Linked DNA regions of Homo sapiens. The main gene of each other region encodes a partner of the protein of the gene in region 2 in a complex. Each region holds a gene or a part of one and is shown on either strand. Other genes may lie near its edges. The genes, in order: HUS1 and RAD1. A codon is read from its position in the direction of its gene.

Region 1 (15,287 bases), on a different chromosome or scaffold from region 2:
ACATCTCCCAGGAGCTGGTCAGAAACAGAGCCTCAGGCTCCAGCTCAGACCTCCCAAATCAGAACCTGCACTTTAACCAGATTCCAGGGGATTCACACGCATGGTAGAACTTAGAAGCAATGTCTTAGAACATGATGTCAATTCCCTCCAGTTCTTGCTTCTTTTTCTGCTCCTGCATGAGTCACATACAACCCACCCCATCAGTCACACCTCGCATTTAATGAAAGGAAGTAACTGGGCATCTCTAATGGGAAGGTGGGCATTTTTAGTGTGTTAAGTCTACCCATTTTCCTTAATTCTACTGCCTGTAATATTCAGATACAGAATTCTGGATACCCAGGAAGACCTCATTATGTACTTTGCTACAGTAACTTGATAACTTTCCATTTAGTAATTCCAGATCGTAGTAGCCTCTCCACAATATTTCTATGTTTTTTTAAACTCCAAAAAAGAGAAAACAAAACACCTCTGATGATTCTAAGCTACCCTTCTACCTCTCTACCTTGCTGACTCATTTTCATTGAACAGAAAGAACAAACAAATGCCATCCTTCAATTAACAGCCCTGTCTTTTCTCTCCTGGGCCTCTCTGAATTTCTCTGGAAGTCCCCAGGGTATCCCCAGATGAAGCCAGCCTGACAACTGGATCAGCATCACTGCAGTCACAGGTGACACCAACGTCAGCACAGTGCACACTGCTTCATGGAAAACAGATTTTATAGATTAAGTTATGAAGGAAAAGCTTTGAGTTACCCAGGTCCAATGACAGCATTGCTCTTAGTGTGCAGAACTCTAGAAAAAAACAGTCAAATGTACATTTTCTAGGCTTCAAAATACTTTTGTGATTTCAAAGACCTCTTGAAGCTAAATTTTGTTCCAGATCCATGCAACACTTATTGCTGCCTACTGAGTGGCAATCCCACACTGGGCAGCTGGGACACAAAGATGATTAAGATGGGGTTTCCTTTATCAAGAAGCTGGTGGTTCACGAGACCTTCAGAGATCTTAGCAGGTGATTTACCATGTACACTGGACAGCTCAGCTCCATGGAGGAGCTTCCAGAGGGGTGGTGGGGAAAGGTCTGTGATGAAGCATGAGAATGGCTAAGTGCCTTCCAGGGAGATGGAGAGAAGAAGCCATGTGTCAAATGGCAAAGAAACTGAACAAAAAAGAAGAGGCATTGTGGGGGAATACCAGAACCCAGCCTCGTTCTGCAGGGAGGGTGTGGCAATACAACAGAGATGTGGCTATAAAGGTGGCCTGGTACACTGTCAAGATCAAAAGTTTATGCTTCATCAGGTGGACAGTGGTTTTTAGAAGATTCAGGGACATAACCAAGGGTGTTTTTTGGAGCAGGATAGGAGGGAGCAGGGGGAGGAGGGAGGGGCAGTGAGTGAAGGAAGAATTCACAATAACCCCAGGTATGAATGAGGATAACCTACACATTTCCCACCACTGTCACACACTGTAACATTTCGAGCCATGTGGCCATAGGAGACTTCCACAAAATAAACAGAAAATAAACAGAAATATAAAAGTGCCCCCTAGCTTGGTGTGAGGTGTGCTTGGAATAAAGGCTGCTATGGTGTGGCATATCTTTGTCCCTGGCTCACTGAAAGACACTTGGCACGCAGACAGGAAACTCCAAACTCACTGTCAGTCATATCAGTGACTCACAGAAAAATACGGGCACGTTAGCAGGTAAAAGATACAATGTTCCAGCCGGGCGCGGTGGCTCACGCCTGTAATCCCAGTACTTTGGGAGGCCTAGGCGGGCGGACCACGAGGTCAGGAGATCGAGACCATCCTGGCTAACACGGTGAAACCCCGTCTGTACTAAAAATACGAAACAAAAAATTAGCCAGGCATGGTGGCAGGCGCCTGTAGTCCCAGCTACTCGGGAGGCTGAGGTGGGAGAATGGCATGAACCCGGGAGGCGGAGCTTACAGTGAGGTGAGATGGCGCCATTGCACTCCAGCCTGGGCGACAGAGTGAGACTCTGTCTCAAAAAAAAAAAAAAAAAAGAAAGATACAATGTTTCATACAAAATATAAGAGGAAAAACAGGCAGATTAAAGGCAAATATAAAAGCTTTCCTCAAAGAATTAGAGTTGAAAAGTATTGGAATAGGTTTCTAAATCCAACTAGCAATCTGCAGGTTCTCAGCACCAGGCCAGGTCCTCATAAGTGGGAACTCGGTTAGGAGGTGCCCACCTGCATGGACTGCTGCAGGGTGAGCTGGAGAACCCACGCCGTCCCACCAAATACTTCAGAGTTCTTTTCTAAAGAAGTTGTGACTTACAAGGTGATTGCTGATGTTTTTCATTTTTTCCACAACACTCTTCATAGTCTTCAAGACTGGTAAATAAATACTAACCTACAAAACCAATGAGAAAAAAGCACAAGTATTAAAAATATTAATATACTCTAGTAATGACAAGGGCCCCATAACTAACTCTAGAACACATGCATGCTCAAAAACTATGGGATACTATTTTACAATTTTCTGAATAAAGTTCTTTTAAAAATATAAAAAGAAAACCAATTCTATTTCACTAACTCAAGGATGCTCAAGCAAAATTAAAGAATGGAATGCCTGCCTCTGGTTACCTCAGCAACCATGTCCCTGTGGGCATTCTTTTGGCTCAAGAAGGAATAGGGTACTTCAGCTGAGATGCCCCTATATTGGTCCAGGGGGAATATAACTCAGGCAATCAGCAGGAGGCCCTCCTCTAAGGGACATTTACACCTATGATTCAAGGGCCTTTTCCATGCTCTGTACAAAAACATGGCAGACAGTCACTGCATCACATCTGAGACTGTTACCAAGAGTGCTCTATAAAACACAGGCTTTTTCAAAATCAGTGTAGGTGCCATCTAGTAAAAGTCAAGTAATTATTTTACCCAGCATATTTCTGTACTTTCTTCTTAAACAAATTGTGAGCAAGAGGAAATGGGCCCTTTGGCATCATCTTTACTTTCAGGAGCTCTAGGGTTAACCATCGGCATGACCGTTACCCCATGTTAGCCCTAAGCCATGAAATTCTTCTCTTCTTGGCTTTCGTGCACATCCAGATATCGCTCCTGACCGGCTGAGGAAAAGATCAAGTCCTGTGAAACCCAAATTGGTGTCTAAGGCCAAGAATACTAATAAATACTAATTGTCCTCCAAAAGTATCATTTGTGTTTTAAGTGATGTTACTGAGCGAGACATTTTCTACATATAGGATGGCATGACATTTCTATCATATGCAACATTTTTAAGATGCTTTATGTAAATAACAAAAGGCAAATAATCTAATGTTTTCGTTAAGTATCCTTTAAAAATAAAATATACTGCAAGACTACAACTAAAACTAGAGAATTCAAGTCATGCCATTTAATGTGGGGTGTACAGCAGGACTGCAGGCATCACCTACATCAGGATCTGGGACCACCGGTTCTTGTAAGTCCTTCCACAATTTCCTAGGAATCACCTTTATGGGGATGTCATGGGTCACAATGCGGCTACTGCTTGACATAGATAACTGCCAAGAAAAGAATTTAAAAATATTTTTATGTTGTTAATATTAAGCAACAACAAAACAAACCCGAAGACCCGGGACAAAAAAGTTGAAATACCAAATCTAAGTGGAATGCTGTCAGTTTATTCACTCAAAAGCCATTCGACCAATATTGATGGTGCCAATATTTATGGAACAGACTCTGGGTACTTCCAGGAACTGGGAAGTGTGGTGATAAGACAAAAAGGTCCTTAGTGTTCCAGTGGAACAAACAGATCAATAAAAATGCAAACAAATGAAACTGTATGAAATGCTCATTATAGCCGTGAGAAAGCACTCCACAGAGACCAGGGTGAGTGTGGGGGAGTTTCCTTAGACTGAGGAGGTGACATTTCAGATACCACCAAAAGCAGGAGAAGCAGCAGCCATGGGAAGACAAGAACAAGGGGACAGGGTTTCAGGCTGGGGAAACAGCACATGTAAAGCCGTGAGGCAGAAAGAAGCAAGCCTGCTATGTTGACGCAACCAAGAGAAGGCCATTCTTTGGGCATAGGACACTCAGAGTGCTGCAGTTTCTAACAGTTAAAAGGCAAACTATATTTATTTCTAGGGGCTCCTATGAGACTCACAGACCAAAATATCTTGCACTTTTGGACAAAAAGTATTATACGTTACTATCTTGCTTTTCCTTAAGCAATAGAAAAAACATACCAAACTTATACTGTGACATGAAATGCCCTAATTAGCTCTGAGAACTGCCTGACTGCAAAGAGTTGAGAGTTATGAAGAAAAGCTGGGCTGGGCGCCGTGGCTCATGCCTACAATCGCAGCACTTTGGGAGGCCGAGGTAGGTGGATCACTTGACGTCAGGAGTTCGAGACCAGCCTGGCCAATATGGTGATACCCCGACTCTACTAAAAAAATACAAAAATTAGCTGGGTGTGGTGGTGGGTGCCTGTAATTCCAGCTACTCAGGAGGCTGAGGCATGAGAATCGCTTGAACCCGGGAGATGGAGGTTGCAGTGAGCCGAGATCGCGCCACTGCACTCCAGCCTGGGTGATAGAGAGACTCCGTCTCAAAAAAAAGGAAATACGAACCTCATTCTATGAGTAGGAAGAGCAACTCTGGATTGTATGTATGCGCATGAGTTTGTGTATTTGTGTGTTTGGAGGACAGCTGTGCACTAAATTCATCTGGCAGTAGCATATAAAACATACGTGTACTGAAGAACGAGGGGCCATTTAAAGGTTATTATAGCAGATGAGGCAGGGTGGGAGTGGGGAGAAAACATGTCAAAGGTGAAAATGGATAGAGAAACCATGATTTCTAGACAAGGTGACAATACCACTACAAGAAACAGAGAGGCTGGAAGTTTCACGGCTTGGAAAAAGCAGCATTCTAGCTGAATGCATATGATAACAACACAATTTTAAAATGAGGAGGAACTGACTCTAATGCAAAATATAGTTATGGACCAGATCTTTAAATTTAAATAAACCAAACAGCTTTCAACAGTATTTATTGTTAAAAAGGCTAGGCTAACTATGTCTATTCCTTCGAGGCCAAGACTTCTGTGTTAGAAACCCTGACTCTCCTACTCACCAGCTCCACGGAGACCGTGAGGCAGGGAAAGTGTTTATTAGTCAGTTTGATTTTCAAAGCCCTGGCATTCTGGGCAGTCTTCAAGGCTCGAGATAAGTTTTCCGATGTTAGCTCTAAATAAATCTCATTGTTTTCTGCAGAGACACCCTCCATTTGAAATTCGTTGAAGAAGTTCTCCTAAGGGAAAAAAAATGAGGGATGAGGGAGGGTATATGTGATCTTTCCAGTGACAATCTGCAGAGTGTGCAGGCCTCTCAGAAGCTTTTGCTCACCTGTTCCAGCTCACACCACATGCTCACTCCTCCATTAGCCAGCTTGTCACAAAGGATGAAGTTAAGCTTATCAGGGCTGATGCGGAGGGTGCAGGTTTTGGCAAGCTTGGCTATCATGTTACTGATTCCTAAAGCAGGGGTTAAAATAAGGAATTACTAAAATGCACATTATGTATCCTAGAGACCAACTTATTTTGCAGAATTTCTTGTTCATCAACTTCTCGGTGGAAAAATAACCACTTAACGTTGGTATCACACTGGAAAGTACTTTAATACCCCTGATGTCACGCAATTCTCCCAACAAACTAGGGGAGATGTACAGCACACATCATCAGTGTTCAAATAAGAAAACAGGCACCTACCAGTCATTCATTCATTCAACATGGATTTATTGACTACTAGGTACTGCAATACACAGTTAAATGCAAGGTTAGGCACTGTCAGGGTGGAGGGACGAATGGGGCCTTGAAGGTATGTCAATGCCTGATAAAGCCGTCTATGGGAGCAGTGGCCGCTTTTTTTTAAAGCCACGTGATCGGAATCAAGTTTCAGAAACGTCCCTTGAAAGCCGCCTTCATCCCCACAAGTGCCCTCCGACCCGCCCCGCGCCCTCCCGGCCCCACCCTCCCGCGGCCTACACCAGCACCCCCATCCCGGCCCCATCCTCCCGCGGCCCCTTCCGGCGCCCATCCCCGTTCTGATCCTCCTGCGCGGTCCCCACCGCGCGCTCACTGCTTCCTTCCGTTCCTCCCTCGCTCCTCTCCGGCCTCCCTGCTCACGTGTGAAGTGGTTCAGACAGGCCCCGTCCACGATCTTGGCCCGAAACTTCATGGCCGCGGATGGCGCAGCCGCGGCGGGCCTCTGTGGGTAACAGAAAAGCGTCGCGCCCTGAGTGTCCCCGCCCGGAAACACGGCAGCGCGAACAGTGGTTCCGCCCGGCTCGGGCTACGCGACTCTTACCAGGGTTATCTCCGGGCCACGCCCCGGAGGAGGTGGGGCTAGGGGGTCACGCCCTAGAGGAGGTGGGGTCACGGGTCAAGGATCACAGGTCACGCCCCGGGGGAGGTGGGGGTCCCAGTCTCCGGGTATGCCTCCGCGCTGCCGGGTAATGGTGGGATCTACTTTTAGTGAGGCGGAGGCTTCAAGCCCCAGATTCGGGGAGGTTGTTCTGAGAATTCACGTTTTGAAAGAATTTTGTGACACCTATTTCAAGTGTTATTTTAAAATATCCAAATAAAATTAATCGTTTATAAAGGTTAAACAATATTATCTTAAATATACCTAAGGTAGAGCAGCTTTAAACCCTCCAGCCTCAGATGACGGTACTGGTACTTTGGTATTGAAGCATCTTGGTGGATTAAGGTTCTGAAAATTGTTTCAAATGACTTCTAAAAAAATTGAACATATTACTGGCTAGTTGGTAAAGTCGGGAAGCTTAAAGAACACTGACGTTAAGTGATAATTCTGCAGTTTGCCTCAAGACGAACTTTATTACATCCGATAAAATTCTTATTAGCATAAATAATGTCATTAGGATTTTTTTTAAAGGAAAAATTTTAAAGGGGGAAATGAAGCAACAATTGTATCTAATTTGGTTTTTCAAAGACTAAAGATTATCTGTGTTAACAATTGTTATTTTTAATGTCCTTTGCAAATAGACTAGAACCTTGTCTTTAACTTGACACATAGAATCAAGATAATGATAATGCAGATGATGATGATGATGATTTTGAGACGGAGTCTGGCTCTGTCGCCCTGGCTGGAGTGCAATGGCGTGATCTTGGCCCACTGCAACCTCCACCTCCCGGGTTCGAGGGATTCTCCTGCCTCAGCTTCCCAAGTAGTTGGGATTACAGGCACAAGCTACCATGCCCGGCTAATTTTTGTATTATTAGTAGAGACGGGGTTTCGCCATGTTGGCCAGGCTGGTCTCGAACTCCTGACCTCAGGTGATCTGCCCACCTCGGCCTCCCAAAGTGCTGGGATTATAGGCGTGAGCCACCGCGCCAGGCCCAGATAATTTTCAAAGACACATGCACACATATGTTTATTGTGGCACTATTCACAATAGCAAAGACTTGGAACCATCCCAAATGTCCATCAATAATAGACTGGATAAGGAAAATGTGGCACATATACACCATGGAATACTATGCAGCCATAAAAAAGGATGAGTTCATGTCCTTTGCAGGGACATGGATGAAGCTGGAAACCATCATTCTCAGCAAAATATCACAAGGACAGAAAACCAAACACCGCATGTTCTCACTCATAAGTGGGAGTTGAACAATGAGAACACATGGACACAGGGAGGGGAATATCACACACTGGGGCCTGTTGGGGGGTGGAGGCCTGGGGGAGGGATAGCGTTAGGAGAAATACCTAATGTAAATGATGAGTTGATGGGTGCAGCACACCAACATGGCACATGCATACCTATGTAACAAATCTGCACGTTGTGCACATGTACCCTAGAACTTAAAGTGTAATAATAATAAAAAGGTGCAAAATACAAAAATTGCAGTTTTTGCCTATTTTAAGACTATAACATGAAGCAAAATTCTAATCTTCATTGTCATATGCGAGTGTTTGCCAAACCAAACTTAATAGATCACTTTCAAAGTTATGCCAACAGGCAGGGCAGGATGGCTCTCTCCTGTAATCCCAGCATTCTGGGAGGCCGAGGCGGGTGGATCATCTGAGGTCAGGAGTCTGAGATCAGCCTGGCCAACATGATGAAACCCCGTCTCTACTAAAAATACAAAAATTAGCCCGGCGTGATAGCTTGTGCCTGTAATCCCAACTACTCAGGAATCTGAGGCAGGAGAATCACTTGAACCCAGGAGGCGGAGATTTCAGTGAACAGAGGTCTGCCACTGCACTCCAGCCTGGGCGACAGAGCGAGACTCCGTCTCAAAAAAAAAAAAAAATGTTGGCATAACTCTTTTTTTTTTTGGAGACGGAATCTCGCTCTGTCGCCCAGGCTGGAGTGCAGTGGCGCAATCTCGGCTCACTGCAAGTTCCGCCTCCCGGGTTCACGCCATTCTCCTACCTCAGCCTCCCGAGTAGCTGGGACTACAGGCGCCCGCCACCACGCCCGGCTAATTTTTTGTATTTTTAGTAGAGACGGGGTTTCACCGTGTTAGCCAGGATGGTCTCGATCTCCTGACCTCGTGATCCGCCCGCCTCGGCCTCCCAAAGTGCTGGGATTACAAGCGTGAGCCACTGAGCCCGGCCATGCCAACATTTTTTATTTGCCCCATATGATCTGCAGGAAAAAGCCTGTTTTTTAATTTCCTCATGAATGAGTTTTGAAGAGTTGAGCATCACATTAAATAAAGTGGCTGCTAGTAGATAAATGAATATAATTAAAGAATGTATCTAAATAAACTTTGTAAACAATGTTTTGTAACATCTTGATCTTTAGTGTAAATTGCTTAATTTTATGTCATAAAAACTGATAAAGCAATTTTTTAAACTTCCTAAGAAGATGTGATATGATACATTCTGCATGGACAAAAGCCCAAATAATATAGGAATTTGACTCAAGAAATAGAAAATAAAGCTGCAATTATCTTTTCTTGGAAGAAGAAAGGAATCTTTTATGTGCTCTTGCAATTTTCTTAAACAGGTTTAGCAAATTAATTCATTAACTTCAGAATTGACAATTAAGTATATTGACACTACTTCTCTACTTTCCAAATGATTTTGAGGCAAGGAATGTGATCTCTAGAGATTTCTAGAAGCCCCATGTACCACTGAGTTTTCTAATGCAATGTATATTCATGTTCTCATCTAGCTACAGTAAATTGCCTTCTGACTTAAGAACTGCCAAATGTCAGGGATTAGTAATTCAGTCACACAATGATTTGGGAAACAGTGTTCACGCTGTTCATTAAGTTTGTTTAGTGGGGAGGTAAATGCCTTAATCTTGTCTTAGAAACTGAAATAAACAGTGGTGCAAATAAAATGTCATTCAGGATGCATATAGTTGGAAGTAAGGGAAATAACCTCTCTACAGCTGCAGATGGTAAACTCTGTCTAGGTAAGTATTTGGCCAGTCTCTTTCAGGTACTTACTCATCTTCTCTAGTCCCTGGGGGAAGAGACAGCAATTTGCAGCCCTGTTGTTAGCAGTTAATGTTGGAAAAATTACCCAAGGGAAACAACGTGACTAGCTCACATGTTACGCATCAAATTTGAAAGGCAGTATTTGTCTTCTTTTTTTAACATGAGAAAACTGTAAAATGAAGGAAAGCATACCCTAGAGGTGGCATGAGTGAATGTCTTTTGACAACTGTACTTGTTCTAAGAGATGGGTTTTTGCTTAAGCAGCTCTTCAAAGACTCTTCTCCTCTTTTAGGTGTCAAAAAAATTCTTCAATAAATTCCATAGATACTTTTCTAAATGAAGATTTGTGGAGCACATGAGAAGTGTCAGGCATGGTGGTGAGTGATGGGGATTAAGGAAGGGGACCAGCCCCTACTCAAGAGGAGGGTGATCAACATTTATTGGATGCCTTTAAAGCACTATTTAAATATTATTGATCAGTAGGGTGAGATAGATAGCTCTCATTTTATAGCACTCTGCACTGATATCATCACTTAGATAATATAAACACACGTAAAATAAGTATGATTATTCCCATTTTATTTTATTTTATTTTATTTTAGATGGAGTCTTGCTCTTGTTGCCCAAGCTGGAGTGCAATGGTGCAATCTCGACTCACTGCAACCTCTGAGTCCTGGGTTCAAGTGATTCTTTTGCCTCAGTCTACCGAGTAGCTGGGATTACAGGCACCTGCCACTACACCCAGACCATTTTTTGTATTTTTAGTAGAGATGGGGTTTCACTGTGTTGGCCAGGCTGGTCTCAAACTCATGACATCAGGTGAGCTGCCTGCTTCAGCCTCCCAAAGTGCTGGGATTACAGGTGTGAGCCACAATGCTCGGCCTATTATTCCCATTTTAAAGATGGGGACAGATAGAATTGGCAATGTTGGCCATGGCATGCCCTACCTCACACTCTTGATGAGAATCTGCATCACTGGATTGCTGAGTGTCCAGTGACCCACATGCTCCTGCTGACTGGACCAGCTCTATTTACACTTGACCTTCAGGAAAACAATTGATAGTGTGGAAATAAATGAAGACCAACCAAATGGAACAGGCAAAGCCTATTTATTCAGAGTCAGCCATTATCACTTGCATTTCAGCAGAGACTCAAAGGCAGGCAGAGAGGTAGGAACGCTTCATAGTGGAAAAGGAAGGAGAGTATAGTGAAGTAACAGAAGAGGTTACAGAGCATGTTTATTTACCAGCTAAAGCTAAAGTGGCAAAGGAAGGAGAGGTTCATCCCTACCCTTCTGCACCCCCTTATTTCCTCCTGGGAAATATTACTGATGAATAACATTTTATATACGGCATTTTGCACATGGTAAGTTTTTTAGTCAAAGGATATATTCATCTCGATTTTTATAGATAGGCCAAGTTCCCTCCATAAATGTTATACCTATTTGCATTTCTTCCAGCAACGTGTGAGAGATCCTGTTTCCCCAAAGCCTTGGAATAAAACATTATCAAACTTTTGGATCTTTCTAATTTCATCAGTGAAACATGGTACAGTATAATTTTTGCCATTTTTCTTAAGTAAATAAGCTTGAATATCTTTCATGTGCGTCTCTAGATGATCTGTTTACTGGCCATTTTTCTATTGGGTTATTGATATTATAATTGCTTTCTTGGGACTGTGTATATATTGGAAAGATTGGTCCTTATAATGTCAGTTGTGAATATTTTTTGCATTTTAAGTTTTGTTGGCCATGCAGAGGTTCTTGATTTTTATATAGTGGAATTTTTTTTCTTTTGTGGCTTCTAAATTTTGAGTCATATTTAGGAAGACCTTCCTCTATTCAATACCATACAGGAATTATCCCAAGTTTCCTTGTTAATATTTTTATGGTTTTATTACCTACTTGTATATATTTTACCATACTGGGAGTTTGTCATATTGTAAAGTGAGAAATATGGATGGAATTTTATTTTCTTAATGACTGGATAATTGTCCCAAGCCATTTGTTTTTTTCCCCCATACTCTTTTGAGATGCTACCATTATCATACACCCAACTTCCACATACATGTAAATATATTTTTGGACTTGTCTGTTGTTGGGAACAGGCCCCCCAAAATCTGGCCATAAAGTGGCCCCAAAACTGGCCATAAACAAAACCTCTGCAGCACTGTGACATGTTCATGATGGCCATAACGCCCACGCTGGAAGGTGGTGGGCTTACCGGAATGAGGGCAAGGAACACCTGGCCCACCCAGGGCGGAAAACTGCTTAAAGGCATTCTTAAGCCACAAACAATAGCATGAGCTATCTGTGCCTTAAGGACATGCTCCTGCTGCCATTAACTAGCCCAACCTATTCCTTTAATTCAGCCCATCCCTTTGTTCCCCATAAGGAATACTTTTAGTTAACTTAAGATCTATAGAAACAATGCTAATGACTGGCTTGCTGTTAATAAATATGTGGATAAATCTCTGTTCGGGGCTCTCAGCTCTGAAGGCTGTGAGACCCGTGATTTCCCACTTCACACCTCTATATTTCTGTGTGTGTGTCTTTAATTCCTCTAGCGCCGCTGGGTTAGGGTCTCCCCGACCAAGCTGGTCTCGGCAGTCTGTTCCATTGGTCTATCTGTTTGCCAGTATCATACAGTTTTAACTATTGTTTTATACCTATGTCATAGAGCTATTTCTTTTTGTTGATTTTTTTTCAGAGATTTTTCTGGCTGTCCTTTTGCTAAGTTTATATTTCCATATGAACTTTAGAATCAATTTTATTTAAAACATACCCCCCTTTGGGTTTTTAAAAATATATACATGTCTTAATTTTTAAAAAACTTTTTAATTGAAAATATCGAACATATATAAATCTAGACAGAATAATATAATGAAGCTCCATGGACTGGCAGCATTCAACTTCAATGATCATTTCATGGCCAATCTTTTTCATGAATTTTCTTATCCATTTCTTCCTCTTATGTTATTATGGAAAAGATCCCACATATATCATTTCAACTTTAAATATTTAAATATGTAAATAAAAAGATTTATTTTAAAATCATCATTTTAGTACCATTATCATACAGACACCTATAATTTATTTTTTTCAGACAGGGTCTTGCTCTGCCGCCCAGGCAGGAGCACAGTGATCATGGCTCACTGCAGCCTCAAATTCTTGGGCTCAAGTGATCCTCCCACCTCAGCCTTCCAAGTAGCTGGAACTGCAGGTGTGCACTGCCATGCCCAGCTAATTTTTTTATTTTTAATAGAGACAGGGTCTCACTATGTCACCCAGGCTCATCTTGAACTCCTGGAGTCAAGCAGTCCTTCTACCTTGGCCTCCCAAAGTGCTGAGATTATAGGTGTGAGCCACCGTGCCCAGCCCAAATTATTTTTTTTAACGATAATTCTTTAATATCTCATAACTGTCCCATAAAGTCCATATTTTTCTGCTTTTTAACTGAGATCAAGTTACATTTATAAATTAACTTAGAACTGACATCTTGACAGTTGAGTTTTCCCATTGAAGGATACAGTATATGGTACATCTATTTTTCCATTTATTTTACTGAAGTCTTCTTTTTTTTTTTTTCTCCAGACAGGGTCGCCCAGGCTGGAGCGTAGTGGCTCGAACACAGCTCACTTGAAGCTTCAACCTCCCGGGCTCAAGTGATCCTCCCACCTGTCTCCTGAGTAGCTGCAACTACAGGCATGTGCCAAGACGTCTGGCTAATTTTTAAATTTTTTGTAGGGATGGGGTCTTGCTGTGTTGCCCAGACTGGTCTCAAACTCCTGGGCTCAAGTGATCCCCCAACCCTTGGCCTCCCAAAGTGCTAAGATTACAGTTGTGAGCCACTGTGCCTGGCCTTAAGTCTTCTTTTAGTCATTCACTGCTGTTTGGGATTTTTTTCACATAGATATTTTACTTTCTTCTTTTATTTGATGTTTATTATCTAAAGATAATAATGGATTTTGTAAGTTATACCCTGTTGTTTTTATGAATGATATTGATTTATATATGGGAATTTTGCATCCACGAACTTACAACAGTTTTTCCTTGTTTCTAATTCTTTTAAAATAGACTCTATTGCATTTCAAGGAATTCATCAAATTATCTGCAAATGGTCATGGTCAGAACTCCTCACTAATTTTTACCTCCAATTTAAAAATTACTGGTTTCCTATCTAATTGCGCTGACCAGTGCCTCCAGATCAGCACTAAATGATAGTAGTGATAGTGGACATCCATGCCTGGTGTAAATAAATGAGTCCGTGAAGGCAAAGATGCTATTATGGGAAAGACTGATGATGAGACTATCTTCTTCTAAATACAAAATGAGTTTTCAATGCTCTAACAACATGAAGCATCCTTAAAGACTAAACTATGGCAAGGATATTTAATTTACTTCCATATTTTTTTATTAGTAAAATGCATTTACTTTTTACAGGCAAGTATGAACCACTTTGAGGTTTTCTTCCCACTCCCAATTCTCAATTCCTATGGGTGCGGTATCATCTAAGAGAATAAGCATTCTTGAATATTCTGGACATGTGGCATGGCCTTCTGTACCAACTCTTCTAGATGTGCTTGCCTGGTGTGCCATGGACCCTGAATCGATATAAACAAGTATACTTCGGGTGTCCCCAGTTGCTAAAGATATTAAGTTTCACACATAATAAATATTCAGAAACTGCATGCTGAAAATAAAGAAAAGAAAATCAATGCCTTATAACGAAATTCATCTCAAAGAATCCCAATGAATACTGATATAATTTTAAATTATATACTTTTTTTTTTTCGAGATAGGATCTGGCTCTGTCACACAGGCTGGAATGCAGTGGCATGATCATGGCTCATTGCCACCTCTACCTCCTGGGCTCAAGTCATCCTCCCAGCTCAGACCCCCGAGTAGCTGGAACTACAGGCACACGCCACCGCACCTAGCTAATTTATTAATTTTTTGTAGAGACAGGGTTTTGCCATGTTGCCCAGGCTGGTCTTGAACTCCAGGGCTCAAATGATTTACCTGCCTAGGCCTCCAAAAGTGATGGGATTACAGGTGTAAGCCACCACGCCTGGCCTATATACTTTTTCTTTTCTAACATAACTATTTTCAAATATCAGTCTAATGAATGAGAAAATAAGCTACTGGAATAAAGAGCTTATGAAAAGATAAGTAGAGGGAGAGGAGGATAATATGGCGGCCAAGTGACCTCTCTATTCCGCTGTTTCCCCCCTCTACACTCCTTGCTGGCTGTGCCGAGGAGCAGGGGCAAGAGGGCTTGTTGTCTAAAAACCAGAACTATGAAGCCAACTATAAGAACAGATAATATGAGCCCAAATGCATATGAATACATAATCAAATATGAAGCTCTACAAATATGCTCATTTCTAACATATATGTATTGTTTTACCTTTATTTTCTCACTATTTGGCCAAAAAGTGTCATAAAACACTTGTTTTTACATGATATAAAATGTCTTCTACATCTCTTCAGTTACTCCCTGTGGCTAATTTAAAAAATGAGGATATATTTCATTTGCCTTGGTGAGTTTCAGGGGATTTATAAGCTAACAGTTGATATTTTCTCCCACTGGGTTAGGAGTTTTACTTGTATTATCTGATATTAAATCTTTATCCTCTATTCCTTTGAGCTTCTCTCTGCCTCTGTCCACTTCATATTGTACCATCATCTTCCTCCCCTATACTCAAGCAAGGTGAGGTAGTAACTATTACACTTAATAGTATTCAGGGAATGGAATAGTTAAGAAAGAACCAAGAAATTAAATATATATATTATAAAAAAGTGATAGCAGATGAGGAAGAATTTGACTTAGAAACTGCTTT
Region 2 (15,706 bases):
CAAAAAAGCAGGTGATGAAACAGCATGTGTCATTTCATTAGATATATATTTTATTGTATTTCTATCTGTCCATGTCAGCAGCCACCTACCTCCATGGTCACTGGTACTCAGAATCTTTTCTTTCCGTTACTAATTTACCCATAAGATCTTAAGCCTAGTGCCCCCTTACACAATAGGCAGTTTCTCTTTCATGTGGGGAAAAATTCAAATGTTCTGGTATCCCCTTTAACAACTGTCCTATTTTTCTCTCCTTTTACTATTAGTTTTCTAAATAAGTAATCTATACACACTGCTTCTAAAATAAGTATGTCATTTGGCCGGGCATGGTGGCTCATGCCTGTAATCCAAGCACTTTGGGAGGCCGAGGTGGGCAGATCACCTGAGGTCAGGAGTTCGAGACCAGCCTGACCAACATGGAGAAACCCCAACTCTACTAAAAATACAAATTAGTTGGGCGTGGTGGCACATGCGTGTAATCCCAGCTACTCGGGAGGCTGAGGCAGGAGAATCACTTGAACCAGGGAGGTGGAGGTTGCGGTGAACCGAGATCGCGCCATTGCACTCCAGCCTGGGCAACAAGAGCGAAACTCCGTCTCACAAATAAAATATAATAAAATAAAAAATTTACAAAGTGCTTTCAACACAGCCATTAATGCATTTGATTCTCAAAACCTCAACATTTTAATATACTCTTTTTTGAAGTGACAGATCAGGGGTTGGTTCTTCCATGGCTTCATTAACTGATGACTGAGTAAACTTCAGTGAGATGCCTTCCTTTCTACCAGTCTACTCCTACTTTACCATCCACAACCGATGCTCTTGAAGTGTTGAATGCTTTTACAAATAATATGACCTAATAAATGTCTGAATTTCAGCTTTGCTAAACCAAAAATTCCAACCCAAGAGAACAGGCTACATTAAGTGTGCTACATTTTTAGCAACACAAACTTCAAAAAGAAATCAGAAATTAACTGATGAATTCTGGTGATATTTTATTTAGAAAAAGATAATCACTGATTTTAAGATCTTAATTTTTCTTTCTTGTAAATGCTACACTAATTAGACGTAAGATAGTATTAGATAATAAAAGTATTTACACATTGAATACAAAATAAATATAAAGTAACTGAAAAACAAATCAGGTTTCCATTGACTTATTTTGTTTTCCCACTGTCCATCCTCTGTTTCATTTTTCTTTGCCTTTTGTAAATCCGTTTCTTTCTTGCTTTCAAATCAACTTTTGGCTCTGGTTTTACCCACTGTATTTCTATTGGTTTCTCCTCAGCTGGTGTTACAAAAACATCTGCAGTGGGATCATGTGGAAGAAGAGTCTTCGGCTCTTTCTTTCTCAGTTTTTGCACATCTTTCACTTGCTGTTTCTCTCTGTATTTTGCAGCTGTGATGGATCTTATGACACGCCGATGCTAAAAAAAAAAAAAAAAGATTAGATGCTTTTGAAATAAAAATAAACATTTTATATAAGGCAAAGACTTTCAGTTATGAACCATATATCCTTTCAGCCAGTGTCATGAAAAAAGGGAGTAATTTCCAAGTTTCTATGCAGCAAAAACCAAATTCAGTTTCACAGGTAATAAAACAGCAATTACTTCACAGAATCATTTTGGCCAAAGGGTTCTGGTACATTGAAGACTACTGAATGACACAACCGCTTACCATGTTTGGTGACTGGTAGTGAGGATTTTCATATAAAGTTGGTCCTCCAAAACTTCCCTGGAAAATCTTTATGAGATTTAAGACAAAACGAGGTCCTATTTCTACAAGAGCAGCATCTTCTTCTATGATCTTTAATAAAAAGGAAACATTTCATTTTGGTTTGGTTACGTTATTCCCAAAAGGTATACTGGCTATAACCTCATTATAAATGTGCCTGAAATAATTGATAATCCATAAAATCAAGGTGGGGGTGAAACTTGGTAAATGGCAAATCATCAATATTTTCTGAAATCTATTAGTACTTATAGGAAGTTGTCATGGAAAAATGTTTTTTCAGTGAGTTCTTTTAAAATTGAGTAATTAGATTTTGGTTCACATCTTGCTTGTCACAATGCATATATCCTTGAAAAACTGGTTAAACAGGATTTTAAAACAGTAACCACTATTAACAAAATGTATTAAAGCACATTATGGGGGAACTCTTGAAACTTAAATCAATCCCTAAATTGTTTTTATAAATCTAATTCAAGTTAGATTAAAAGGATATGTAGTCAAATTTATTTAATAGCTACTGATTATGGAATTAAAAGGCAACTTCCGAACAACAAATATTTATGTTATCTATTAGTTCAGGCATGTCTACCCTCAGAGGTTAGGATGATGTGTTCAACTCACATGCCAGGTATCCAATATAAAATATGCAGAAAAGAGCTCAGTTTATGTCATATACTGTCTAAAATTTTGTTCTTGCTGTTCTCTTCCACCTCTTCATCTTTCTGCACTTATCGTGCCAAACTCCTGCTTCAAGATTTCTAGAGTCACCTCCTCTTTTCTCCTGAATGAGTCACTGTGTGACTCATCATCTAACCGCTGCCATTGAATGCCTTCTAGAGCAATTACATTTTGCTAGGTCTTAACCTTTGAGGTGCTTTGAGAGAGAAACTTCTAAGCTTTGAGAGAGAAACTTCTATTTTACTGTATCCTTTACAGCACTTTCTACAAATTAGGAACCCAAGTATCTCATGGATCTTCAAGTTATTCCCTTTCTATAAAGTTAAATATATAATGGCTTATTAGGAAATCCATACTCTGTATCAACTAACAGTCATGAATAGAAGTAGGTAGAGCTCACTTAAGATATAAGACAGTACATAGTTACTTGCAGCAATCTCTTTAGGGAAAAGGAAGCTATTTAAAACAAAAGAATTATTTGCATTTTTTGTGTATGCAAACCCTGTATATCCTTATCTAAAAGTTTAACTAAAAATTGACCAGGCACAGTGGCTCACAACTGCAATCCCACCTACTCAAGATGCTGAGGAGGAATGATTTGAGGCCAGGAGGTTCAAGGCCAACCTAGGCAACACTGCGACACTCTATCTCTAAAAAAAAAAATTAGGCCGGGTGTAGTGGCTCACGCCTGGAATCCCAGCACTTTGGGAGGCCAAGGCGGGCAGATGGCCTGAGGTCAGGAGTTTGAGACCAGCCTGGCCAACATGGCGAAACCCCGTCTCTACTAAAACTACAAAAATTAGCCAGGCGTGATGATGGGTGCTTGTAATCCCAGCTACTCAGGAGACTGAGGGAGCAGAAGCTTGAACCCGGGAGGTGGAGGTTGCAGTGAGCCAAGATTGTGCCACTGCAGTCCAGCCTGGGCAACAAGAGCGAGACTCTGTCTCAAAACATAAATAAATAAACTCAATTAAAAAAAAGGTATAATTAAAAATCAAGTAAAGCTTACCTGAAAGTTCCGAAACCATATCCTATTATCCAAAATGGTGAAAGTAAACACGTGGTCCACAAATGGTTGGCTTTTGGGATGATACCGTGGTGTACTAAAGATCTAGTTAAAAAAGTGTATGTTAGTTCCTTATTCCAAGATATATCATGTATATTTTGGATAGCTAATTTTAAAGATATTTACCTGAATTAAGAGTTCTTTTAACAAAGCATAATGTGGTAATTCATCAAAAGCCTATAAAAATAAGGTAAGCATATTATTTAACAGTAGACTGCCTTGTTTAAAACTGTTTGCTCATTTGTTTCTATAACTTGGCTATAACCTCATTATAAATGTACCTGAAAGAATTGATAATCCATAAAACCAAGGTGGGGGTGAAACTAAATTGAATAACACAACTATATCTACTAAAAACAACCATGCCAGATAAGAAAATTAGACCTCATACACTGAATGAGAAACTTACAGGGTCAAAAGACAAAAGGGGCCGAGAACCTTTCAAACAGTTTCCAGTCATCTTCAGTTCAGCGAGGGTATGAACTAGAAAAATTACAACAAAAACAAAAATAGTTGTAACTTTTGCACAACTATTTCAAAAGATTACTTTTAATTTCCTCATCTAAAAAAATTTATTGAGTCAACTTACTATTTTGAACAAGGAATTTAGCAGATGGTCCGTGAGGTGAATTTGAAAGCCTGAAAGATATGGAGTAAGCTTTTTCAACTAATTAGCAAATGTAGTCAATGCTTACCACCTATTCACCATAAATAATATGCTTATAATATTTATACATTTAATTTTCTTTAAAGGTATCAAGTTTCGTGAAATCAAAAGTTTGCTTCATTCTCAACCCTTAACATGAAACACTAGGAGTCTATAACATAAAAGGTACAAAGAACAAATCCACTTAAATGAGTTTAACCAAAATCTTAATACATTCTCTTACCACATATAGAGATCCTGTTTTTTCTTAGCTTCAAAATAGATGCATTTATTACAGTTCTTCATTTCACAAACCTAAAGGAAGCAAAGTATAGGAAAATGAAGTAGATAATATAAATGAGAACTAAAGTAATTATATGTGATTAATATCATCCAGATTATCTCAAAAATACCTAACCAGGCTAATAGGCTACAAAGGCCTAAACATGTATTTATTCACAGAAGGAACCTTTAAAGTTCCTCTTAGGTATTCTACCCAAGGTAAACTAGATGCTCTGCCCATATCTTGGGTGAAATTATCTATCATATTTTTGGGCCTAGCATCTAAAATGGTCTCACTTCTGATTACTGGAAACCTCCCTCCTTTTTTTTTTTTTTTTTTTTGCGATGCAGTTTCGCTCTTGTTGCCCAGGCTGGAGTGCAATGGCACGATCTCGGCTCGCCGCAACCTCCACCTCCCAGGTTCAAATGATTCTCCTGCTTCAGCCTCCGGAGTAGCCGGGATATTACAGGCCTGTGCCATCACACCCCGCTAATTTTGTATTTTTAGTAGAGATGGGGTTTCTCCATGTTGGTCTGGCTGGTCTTGAACTCCCAACCTCAGGTGATCTGCCTGCCTCAGCCTCCCAAAGTGGTGGGATTACAGGTGTGAGCCACCTCACCTGGCCAGGAACCTCTTCTGCCCATAGTCCCATTGACAAACTACAAAGACTAAAAATAGATGCCCTACGGATAAAGCATACCACAACTAATCTTCTTATGTTAATCCTTCATAATCAATCTTCTTAGCCAATCTTATGAAAATGCAGTACTTATAGAACTAAAAACATCCTTTTTAATGATTATTTTGATTTTTAACTTTTTAGCTTTTTGATTCTAAGATCACAAAACTTAAGTTGTTCTTCATTTATACTATCATTTCTGGTGATTTGGTTCTATAAAATCACTAAGGGATTGGGTGAAAAGCCTAAGTATATCAAACCTATTTCAAATTAAACTTCAATGTCTTGAAGGCTTACAAAAGTCACACTTGAGAAGACACAAAAACATTACAGGAGTGAAGGCTTGTATTACTGTAGTATTCATAAACTCTAATTAATATAGTACTCTTAAACTCCACATTATTTAAGACTTTAAACCTAACAACTTATGGCTGGATGAGGTGGCTCATGCCTATAACCCCAGCACTTTGGGAGGCCGAGGTAGGTGAATTGTCTGAGCAACCTGGCAAAGCTCCATCTCTACTAAAAATACAAAAAATTAGCTGGGCATACTGGCGTGTGCCTGTCGTCCCAGCTACTCGGGAGGCTGAGGCAGGAGAATTGCTTAAACCCAGGAAGCAGAGGCTGCAGTGAGCTGAGATCATACCACTTCACTCCAGCCTGGGTAACAGAGAGAGACTTTTGTCTCCAAAACCAGTTAAACAAATAAACAAACCCTAACAACTTAAAAAAAAAAAACAAAACTTTTGTTTCTTACTGGTCTTAGAATAAACACAAAAATAGGAAGTTTGTGCCACTTCTGGGCTTTTGTAGTTGCCATTTTCTCTAGCTAGATGGTCTTTTACCATATTTCTCCTTCACTACGTCTCTGCTCAAATATTAAACACCATCCCTTTGAACAGGTTTTTCCGGTGTAGCCTCAGCTGTCCAAAACCTATAACCTGCTTTATTTCTCCTGTCTTTACTTGAAATTATAAACCTTGTTTATGGCCTGTCTCCATTAGAATGTAAGTTCCATAATGACAGGGACATTGCTCTGTTGAACAGTTTCTACAGCACATAGAATAATGTGGTATTACAGCAGAGGTTCAAAAATTTGTGCTCTAAAGAAGGCTAATAGTGAAAAAATGATCCTAATTCTTCTAAGTTTTGAAAATTTTGCTTTAAAATGTAAATTTATGTTCTGTGCTTCCAGAGGTTAAAAAAAATACCTAAGTGTAGTATCTTAAACAATACTTTGAAAATGTAACCTATTCAGTTTGTAATACCTTAATAGCCAGTTCCACACAAATCACTTTTAATACTGGCAAAACACTTTTTACCATGTGGGTTTTATATATATATATGTTTAATGGACTTATTTTACTTTATATATGTTGACTGATAATTTTTTGAGTACCTACTATGGATTTAGCATAATACTAGACACTACAGGGTTAAAAAATGGGACATAATCCTTCTCCTGAGGAAATTTCAATATGCTTGTTCAGACAAAACAAACAGAAATGAATGAAGCACTAAACTGTGAGAGATAAAAATTTGGAAGACCAGTTATTGAAGAGTTAATAAAATGTGTCTGAATAGTTTTTACAAAATAATTTTTAAAGTCACTGAATGACTTAGTTTTGAAATAAGCCACTGTTAACATTTTAAAAATATTTTGTTGCAATTACTTTCCAAAATTACCTCGTTAATCACAAATAGCTTATCCTTACGATCCATTTTAGTATCTAGAAAAAGAAAAAAAAGAAAAAGCAAGTAAATTAAAGGTGATTTCAAAGTTATTTCAATCAAACCACATATGCTATCCAGAAAATAAAGTGTTTTTACACTCTTCAGTTTAAAGGAGATTTTATTACTAATTTTCAAAACAAGAGCTGGAAACAATCGCTCAAAAATCTTGACTCTTTGTAAATGTAAAGAAAATAAGTAAAATATAGTCTGTAAGAATTAGAAATTATAGTGTAAGCAGTGTTTCTCAATATTTAGGTATTCTAGGAATCCTTTTCAAAAATGGGAAAATTCTCACAAACCAAAGACTGTGTTAAAGGAAACCAGTTTCAATGAAAATATCTTTCACTTTTTAATCTTAGGTGTCAAAGAAAACTGACTTTATGCCCGTGTAACAAACCTGCACATATACTCCTTGAATCTAAAATAAGTTAAAATTTTAAAAATAAAAAACAAAAAACAAAAAAACCCCAAAGCACCTCTCAACATAAGCACAACAACAGCCATATGATGGCGCTGCCACTCCACTGTTCCAAACTTTTTTTTTTTTTTTTTTTTTTTTTTGAGACAGGGTCTTGCTCCTTGCCCAGGCTGAAATGTAGTGGCGCAATCACGGCTCATGACAGCCTTGAACTCCTGGGCTCAAGCCATCCTCCTGCTTGAGACTCCTGAGTAGCTGGGACTGCAGGCAAGTGACCCCCTCACTTGGCTAATTTACTTTACTTTTTTCATTTTTTTTTTTTTTTATTTTGTAGAGACAGGGTTTCACCATGTTGCCCAGGATGGTCTGGAACTCCTGGACTCAAGTGTTCCACCCACCTCGGCCTCCCAAAGTGCTGGGATTACAGGCATGAGCTACCATGCCCGGCCATACTGTTCTTGCCTGTAAAATAACCCACTGCTTAAAAATAAATAAATAACCTGGCATTTAGAAATAGGCTCTGACTCCAACTTAAAAAGTGCTTTGAATTCTATCCCAGGTCCATTTTTCAATAAAAACAGTTAAAAAAAAAAAAAAAAAGGCCCAAAAAGCAACATGTGGCAGTCCTTAGCACTTAGGACAAACCATCCCACCTATCTCAGGACCTTCAGAAGCATTACAGTGAAGGCATTCCTGGACCTTCAAGAAATGTTTCAATAATATTAGGACACCTGTTTTAAAAAGTAAAGAATCTACCTAATGAAATCTAAAGAATTTCTTACGAAATGTTAACTGGAAAAATTGTGGCACTTGAAAGGATAAAAGGCATTGTGTTTTTTTCGTGAGAACACTGAACAAATGAAGAATATATAAAATAAGTGAAAACATAAAAATAGGTAAGTTTATAGATAGAAATTTCTAAAGTATATGATATAAAGGCACCTGCTTTAGAATGAGGCATCAACATTCTCAAGTCCTGCATTAAATGTCTTGTTCTAAAATTTATTCCTCTGGAAGAAAAGATGAGAATCCGTTCCTTATTTTTCCACTTTCCCTAAAGAAAAAGAAAATGTTAAAAGATTTTAAAATCTTATACTGAACTGATCTTGTTTTGTGACAGGGTCTCACACTGTTGCCCAGGCTGAAGTGCTCACGGCTCACTGCAGTTTCAAGTTCCTGGGCTCAAGTAAGTGATCCTCCCACCCCAGCATCTACAGTAGCTGGAGACTACAGGCATGTGCCACCATGTCCAGCTAGTTTTTTTTTTTTTTTTTTTTGTAGAGATGGGAGTCTCCCTATGTTGCCCAGGCTGGTCTCCAACACCTGGGCTCAAGTGGCTTGGCCTCCCAAAGCGCTGGGATTATAGGTAAGAACCACCGCACCTGGCCCTGTTTGTTTTTTATGAGCTTCCAAGTAGCTCATAACCAAGTCAAACCATCCTGACTCCTTTAATTTCATCTCTCACCAACATTCACTGACCACATCTGCCACCCAGAAATGCCCTCCTTGGTTTCTTTGTTTTTCAACTTCAATCTCTCCAATTCCTCCTTCCAACCCTAAAAGTTCTTTCTTAGCCCTCTTATTTCTGTGCTCTCCATGACAGATGTCTCATAATAATTTCCCACAACTCTTAATCCTTTCTTATTCACACTGCACTTACTTAGAGTCTTATATTAACTGCAAAACTCCTAAATGGCTAACCTTCCCAGACATGAGCACCTCCAATAGATATGGTTGACTAGCTTTTTCAACAGTTTACTTTTTTTGTTTGTTTGTTTGAGATGGAGTCTCACTCTGTCACCCAGGCTGGAGTGCAGTGGCGCGATCTCGGCTCACTGCAACCTCCACCTCCCGGGTTCAAGCGATTCTCCTGCCTCAGACTCCCGAGTAGCTGGGATTACAGGTGCCCGCCACTGCACCTGGCTGATTTTTTTTTTTTTGTAGTGTTAGTAGAGACGGGGTTTCACCATCTTGGCCAGGCTGGTCTTGAACTCCTGACCTAGTGATCCACCCGCCTCGGCCTCCCAAAGTGCTGGGATTACAGGCGTGAGCCACCACGCTGGACCATTTTTAAAGTAATACTTCCATCACATCCTTACTTCCCAGAGTTTTCTAAACAAAGTTCAAATGACATAGCTTTGACACTGAATTTTAAAATAGATTTTCACGTCTACATCATTATTGCCCCAAATGAAGCCTAATGCAATCCAATCTGGCTCTATTTTTTACATTTTTCAGCATTTCCCTACTTCAAAGTCTTTCATCGGTTTTTTTTTCTCCCTTGGAGTGTTCCCTCTCATTTTTTGAATGTCAAAATTCTACACTTCCTCTGATATGCAGCTTACGGGCTAAATCCTTCATGATTCTTTATCTTATTATACTAGGGTAAAAATAATCTATATCTCCTGCACTTCCATAGAATGTATCGAAGTATGGCTCAGATTATAGATACTACCTAGCTCAAGGGAAGAGTGAGAACACTAACATTTACTGGAAGTGTACAAGTCCAGCTTATTTTTCATAAAAAGTAAATATTCCCTCCCCCTGCCCCCCAATCTGCAGGTCAGAAAAGAGCACAGAATGTTGCTGTTAATAACGGGGCTAGAATTTACACTTATCTTTCATTCCACAGAGCTCACTTCTTTCTTAGAGCTTGCCATCACACCACACGGGGTCATTTACTTATCACCTACTCCGCGCTAGAGTACTATGCTAAGTGCGGAGGACGCAAAAATTAATGTCAAAGATAATCCTTGTTCACAGTATTCTGTCTAGCTTAAGAAGAGTTCTTAGTTGAATGAAAGCTAATTCTAACAACTTGTGTGCACTTCTTTTGAATAAAAACCATCAACTTATTTGAATTCTTAAGTTTCCTCCTAAACTCCAACATTTCAGGAGGAAGAGGTCACATTCTAGTCATCTTTGCAATCTCAAACCCAAAGGAAGCCTAACTTGGTACAGTGCATGGCACATTCAATGTCTGTTGAATACAAGTAAAGCTCATACTACCTAGTCTATTTTTCAGTATCTCTTGAGTTAATGACCTGGTTAACAAGTCAGAGTCACAGTCCCAAGGGCAACAACTTTTTAAAGGCTCCCCTAACGTACTTCAGGATCCCTGACTGAGAGTGGCTGACTATGGCAGTATATGGGCATACTAATCACTGGAGAAATAATAGCGAGAAATAACCAAGGAAAAGCACTACTCTCCAAAAACATTAAAAAAAAAAAACAACTGAACAACTAGTAAGAAAGAACGCTGGATCTGAGCACCCTGTAAGTCGCTTCCCCGTGGGCCGGGTAAAGGTTTTAAAACCCGCCGCCTCCAGGAAGACGGCCACGTGCACAAGGATTAGCTGCAAACTCCGTGCCCAGTCTGGCCGGGAGAATTGCTAAAACCGACCTACCGTTAACACCCGGGCTACTCTGAAATTAAGCAAGGCTGTAGTCAAGTAAGTAACCCAAGAAAAGGCGCACAGAGCCGCCGCCGCAGGTGTAGCCCGGGGACATCCCCTCCTACCTTGCAAACGGGGCCTGGGATCCGGTCCCTCTCTTCTTCCTCCACCTCCTCTGCTGTGGCGTGCCGCTTAGCTGGCGGCTCCGCATCTATTTCGTTTCTTTTTGGCTTCTTCGCCTGAACTGCAAAGCCTCCACGCCGTTTCCTCTTGGTTGCCGCCATCTTGCCTCGCCGCCCGCGCTCTTGGCCTCCTTTCCGGCGCTGCCGCTCGCTCCTATTTCCGATCTCTATGGTTCGGCGGCTCTAAGCGCTCAGCTCCGCGGTCGTCCTCCAGGTCTGTGCCGCCTCCTTCCGGTCTCGGTGGCGCGGCACGCGCGGCTCTCTAGGCCTCCTTCAGCTCTGTGGTGACGGTGGCCGAGGTGGAGGGCCGGTCTGAAGAGTGGCGGGACTGGCTTCACTTCCTCCGCGGTTCCTCGGAGCCGCCTCGCTCCTCTTCAGGGACTTTGCTGAGAAGGGCTCTCGGGCGTCCAGACCCCACCGCAAAGGTAGGGTTTCCGCACTCGGGGACCCCGAGACTAGTAAGCGATGCTGTCCCGCGGGCGGGCTGGTGAATGGGGTTGTCTGGGACTCTTGGAGGATTATCTGGACACTCCGGGCCCGCCCCGCCATCGCCTGTTTTGTTGGAGGCGGGGCTGGTGGCGCGGGCTGCACAAAACCGACTCCCCGCGGATTTGTAGCTCCTGTTTGGCCGGGAGATACCGTGTCAGTTGCGTGTCTTCATTCTTCACAACTTTTCACGTTATTGTCCTCTTACGGAGACGAGGAAACCGTAGCTTAGATAATTTTCCTCCAGAATTACAAAGATAGTTAAGTGACATAGGTGGGGTTCGGCCTGGTCAGCCGTGTTCAGCCTCCCAGCCCCTTTCCACCTCTCAGCGCAGGTGGAGCTCGCCGGACCTCGCCAGCACTGATGGGAGTTTTACTGTCTAATCCCTTCAGGTGTTTGGCGATCCGCCGAGAAGTTGTTGGCCCCAGGAGCATCCCTCGGGGCCGAATGCGCAGTGGACGATGCCCCTTCTGACCCAACAGATCCAAGACGAGGATGATCAGTACAGCCTTGTGGCCAGCCTTGACAACGTTAGGAATCTCTCCACTATCTTGAAAGCTATTCATTTCCGAGAACATGCCACGTGTTTCGCAACTAAAAATGGTATCAAAGTAACAGTGGAAAATGCAAAGTGTGTGCAAGCAAATGCTTTTATTCAGGTATGGAAGTAGGCGCCTTTAAGCCTGTGCCATAGATACTCTAAATGTAATTTAATGAAATCGGAAGGTTTCAGTAGACAAAATAACTTAATAGTCATAATAACTTGTCAATAGTCATAATAAATAACTTAATAAATAAATAATAGTCTTAAGTTAGAGAACAAAACGTCATTACTTGAATTTTTTTTCTCTCCCGGTAACAAATTCTTTTCCCATCTTGTTTTACAGAGATAATGGTTAGTAATGACTAAAGTTTATTAAACTAGGCTATTGGCTAGGCTACAGTCTTCTTATTGTTTAACTTATTTAATCTTAACAATAGTCCTGTAAGGTAGGTTCTGTTATTATTCCCGTTTTATATATGTGGAAACGAGGCACAATTTTAAGTGATTTGCCAACAGTCCCACAGCTGGTAAGTGGCTGAATTGGGATAAGAACGCTGAATATTTGTTTCCAGAATATATGCTCTTTTTTCCACTGCGATATGCTATTACTAAAGAGTATTTTTTTCCTTTACTGGTTGTAATAGAATTTTTGTTCTTCCAAAGTAATATTTGTGTGGTTCAGATAGGATTGCAAGTTCAACTAAGCGTTTTTTAACACGTAAGTGCACAGCATGATCTCAGGGATAGAGAGGTAAATAAGACACGGTTCTTGTCCTCATGCAGGGGCATGGTATGGTGGCTCACACCTGTATTTCCAGCTGCTCAGGAGACCGAGGCTGAAGCACGAAGATCGCTTGAGCTCAGGCATTAAAGACCAGCCTGGGTAATCATAGTGAGACCCCCGTATCAATAAAAAATCATAATAAAAGTTGAAACTAATGTTGCTCATGCATTATCAAGTCATTCGTCTATTTTCCAAGTGACCTTAGCAGTAGTGATAGGCACAAAAACGAGACAAGGGAGAGTCACAGAGGGATAGTTTTAGATCCAGGAATGGAGATAAGGATGCTTCAAAGGATGTCTCTAAGATGTTTTGATTGCTAATCAGAAATTATTCTCATGGGATTAGCACAGTATTGTATTTTTTAAACGTATAAAGTGAAATCTAGGACCTTATATTATTAGTTTTTATTCTTTTATGTAACAATTTTCATTTTTACTCTTTTCATAGGCTGGAATATTTCAGGAGTTTAAAGTTCAGGAAGAGTCTGTTACTTTTCGAATTAATTTAACTGTCCTTTTAGACTGTTTATCTATTTTTGGATCAAGTCCTATGCCAGGTAAACTATGATCAGTATAAAGACATAAAAGTGTTATACATAGTGGTCAGAAAAATACAGGAAGTTATTTGGAACATAAACATTGGTTCAGAAAGCTAATGCCAATTCATTTTTCAGTGGCCACAGTCATGGGTTCTAACATTTCACAATGTTAATTGCAAGTGTGTTTATAATTCTTTTCATATTTGTAAAAGTATTTGCATTTTTTTTTTAATTTACAAGGCTTTGAGGGATTGTAAATTCGAACTGGCCAAAAGAATACTTTGGACATGTCTTAAATATTTTTAGCATTGTGAAATGTTTTAATTGCTTCTTTTTCCTAACTTGTCCAGAATTACTCCGCTAGTTAGTGGCAGAGAAAAACAAAAGCCAGTTCTGACTCCTAGTTTACTATGTTCAAAATTTGTTTCTTTTAAGCCATATTTTATAAGTTATGTCTATTTTGCCAAATGATTTTGTGGTGTTTTTGAGACAGAGTTTCTCTCTTGTTGCCCAAGCTGCAGTACAATGGCACAGTCTCAGCTCACTGCAACCTCTGCCTCCCGGGTTCAAGTGATTCTTCTGCCTCAGCCTCCCGAGTAGCTGGGATTACAGGCACGTGCCACCACGCCCGGCTAATTTTTTGTATTTTTAGTAGAGATGGGGTTTCACCATATTAGCCAGGCTGGTCTCAAACTCCTGACCTCAGGTGATCTGCCCGCCTCAGTCTCTCTAAGTTCTGGGATTACAGGCATAAGCCACCGCAACCGGTTGCCGAATGATTTTCTTTAAAATATATATTTTTTTATTTGTTAAGGGAATTTTTAAGAATGGTGAAATTGAATTGCTGTGGGTATAAAACTAAGGAATCCCCAGAAGAATGATTTTATTTCATAGGAAAGCAACCTGGAGATTAGCTAGGAAAAATTCAATATAGTTCTCCAGAAAAATGTATTTTACGTTTCCACAGACAATTCCACTATTATTAATTATACATTTTCTAATACAGTGTTCTCCAGCTAGTTTTTCACAGAAGCATCTGTCATCTTCCATTCCTCACTGTGGCTCTCAATCCAGTAAGGAGAAGGAGTTTGAATATCCTGTCATATTCCTCCTTCCCTCTAGTGGTTTGCAGAGTTAAAATTTACACCACCATTAACAACCCTCTTTTTCTCTCAATTTGATTTTTAAATTCGAGGAAATATAAAGAATATCTCCCAGTTGGAAAAGTTGGAAGGATCCTTGTCATAGTGAGTACACTGACGTTACAGTACAGATGACAGCAATCCACTGTTACACACATTGAACCTTCAAGGAATAGCATACCCTGTTCTGCAGCAATTTAGTTACTTGCTGTGTTGATCCATATAGATTCTCTACCCTGAAATTGTACATATATAAAATCAACAAGCTATTTCTGAGGTGTGTATGACAACCTGAAAATGATTCCAAAGAATTATGTTACATTTTGTTCTGGTTCCCAATTTTCTTGTAGTTTTGGAATTCTCTACACACAACTGTCATCAGGGAAGATGTCATCCCTTTTTATGAGGAGATACATATATGTGAGAAATTGGGCGGAATAAATTATTCTTGAGAAATTTTATGTATCATTTCGAGGAGAAGCTGAACCCAGAACTATAAAGCTAAGGCCAAGTATGACTTCTTTCCATTGCAGGGACTTTAACTGCACTTCGAATGTGTTACCAAGGTTATGGTTACCCTTTGATGCTGTTCCTGGAAGAAGGAGGAGTGGTGACAGTCTGCAAAATCAATACACAGGAACCTGAGGAGACCCTGGACTTTGATTTCTGCAGCACCAATGTTATTAATAAAATTATTCTGCAGTCAGAGGGGCTCCGTGAAGCATTTTCTGAATTGGATATGACGAGTGAAGTCCTACAAATTACCATGTCTCCTGACAAGCCTTATTTCAGGTACTTGAGAGCAGTGCAGTTATAGTTAATGTGGTCTGTACTCCATCTTCCCACTTAGACATTTGCTTAGGATGCAAAATTTTTATTATCCACATTTTTAGAGTTTTCACAACTTTAGACAGCTTGTACTCTTACCTCATAATTTTATGGATCAAGAAACTTAAGACCCAGGAAGATTAACTCACTATTTCATATTTAGGTGGTGGTGGCATCTAGATGAGAAGCCCAGTCCTCTAATTTATAAACTGGTGGTGTTTTCATTGTACTACTCCTTACTTTCATAGATCAGGTTACATCATGAGGAAAATTGGGTTTAAGTGTTTGGAAAGGGTGTTTGTATTATGGTATCTTTTTCAAGTTAGTTCAGGATGCAGAAGAAGATGTTTTCTACACGTGGCTCATTCATTCACTAAGTATCTGTTGATCACCTACCGTGTGCTTATTCATCTTATTAAGCATTGTGGGAAGAACAGCTTAAAACCAAGGTGAAGCCAAGAAAATGTGAAACAGCAAACCATTAAGTACCAAGATAGCACACACAGATACCTGGGAAATGCTGTATAAGGATTTAGGGAGGATTGCTCAAGGCTGGCTTCCCAAGGGAGGGCAG

Evidence for each region.
Region 1: the proteins of RAD1 (region 2) and HUS1 are in contact, whole or in part, in a crystal structure (PDB 8GNN), measured with the Homo sapiens proteins. Residues at the interface, in NP_002844.1 of Homo sapiens: Asn85 (codon at 13,126), Val88 (codon at 13,135), Asp91 (codon at 13,144), Cys92 (codon at 13,147), Ser94 (codon at 13,153), Ile95 (codon at 13,156), Phe96 (codon at 13,159), Gly97 (codon at 13,162), Ser98 (codon at 13,165), Gly127, Val128, Val129, Thr130, Val131, Cys132, Lys133, Ile134, Asn135, Gln137; in NP_004498.1 of Homo sapiens: Thr165, Ser168, Val169, Lys172, Met173, Asn175, Ile176, Glu197, Leu198, Val199, Cys200, Val201, Thr202, Thr203, His204, Phe205, Lys206.

Annotation. Positions count from the first base shown.
Region 1 is NC_000007.14:47,973,313-47,988,599, forward strand, and holds the start of HUS1 (checkpoint protein HUS1), read right to left. Parts: upstream 6,304-15,287; 5' UTR 6,208-6,303; coding exon 6,156-6,207; exon of another isoform or gene 6,098-6,155; intron 5,505-6,097; coding exon 5,377-5,504; intron 5,282-5,376; coding exon 5,105-5,281; intron 3,526-5,104; coding exon 3,418-3,525; intron 2,376-3,417; coding exon 2,301-2,375; intron 1-2,300. UniProt on the Homo sapiens protein: Component of the 9-1-1 cell-cycle checkpoint response complex that plays a major role in DNA repair. The 9-1-1 complex is recruited to DNA lesion upon damage by the RAD17-replication factor C (RFC) clamp loader complex.
Region 2 is NC_000005.10:34,910,944-34,926,649, reverse strand, and holds the start of RAD1 (cell cycle checkpoint protein RAD1), read left to right. Parts: upstream 1-11,145; 5' UTR 11,146-11,234; intron 11,235-11,688; 5' UTR 11,689-11,757; coding exon 11,758-11,955; intron 11,956-13,071; coding exon 13,072-13,180; intron 13,181-14,837; coding exon 14,838-15,096; intron 15,097-15,706. Other genes in the region: BRIX1 (ribosome biogenesis protein BRX1 homolog), read right to left, coding at 1,155-1,424, 1,675-1,803, 3,416-3,517, 3,599-3,649, 3,882-3,955, 4,062-4,111, 4,363-4,433, 6,767-6,810 and 2 more. UniProt on the Homo sapiens protein: Component of the 9-1-1 cell-cycle checkpoint response complex that plays a major role in DNA repair. The 9-1-1 complex is recruited to DNA lesion upon damage by the RAD17-replication factor C (RFC) clamp loader complex.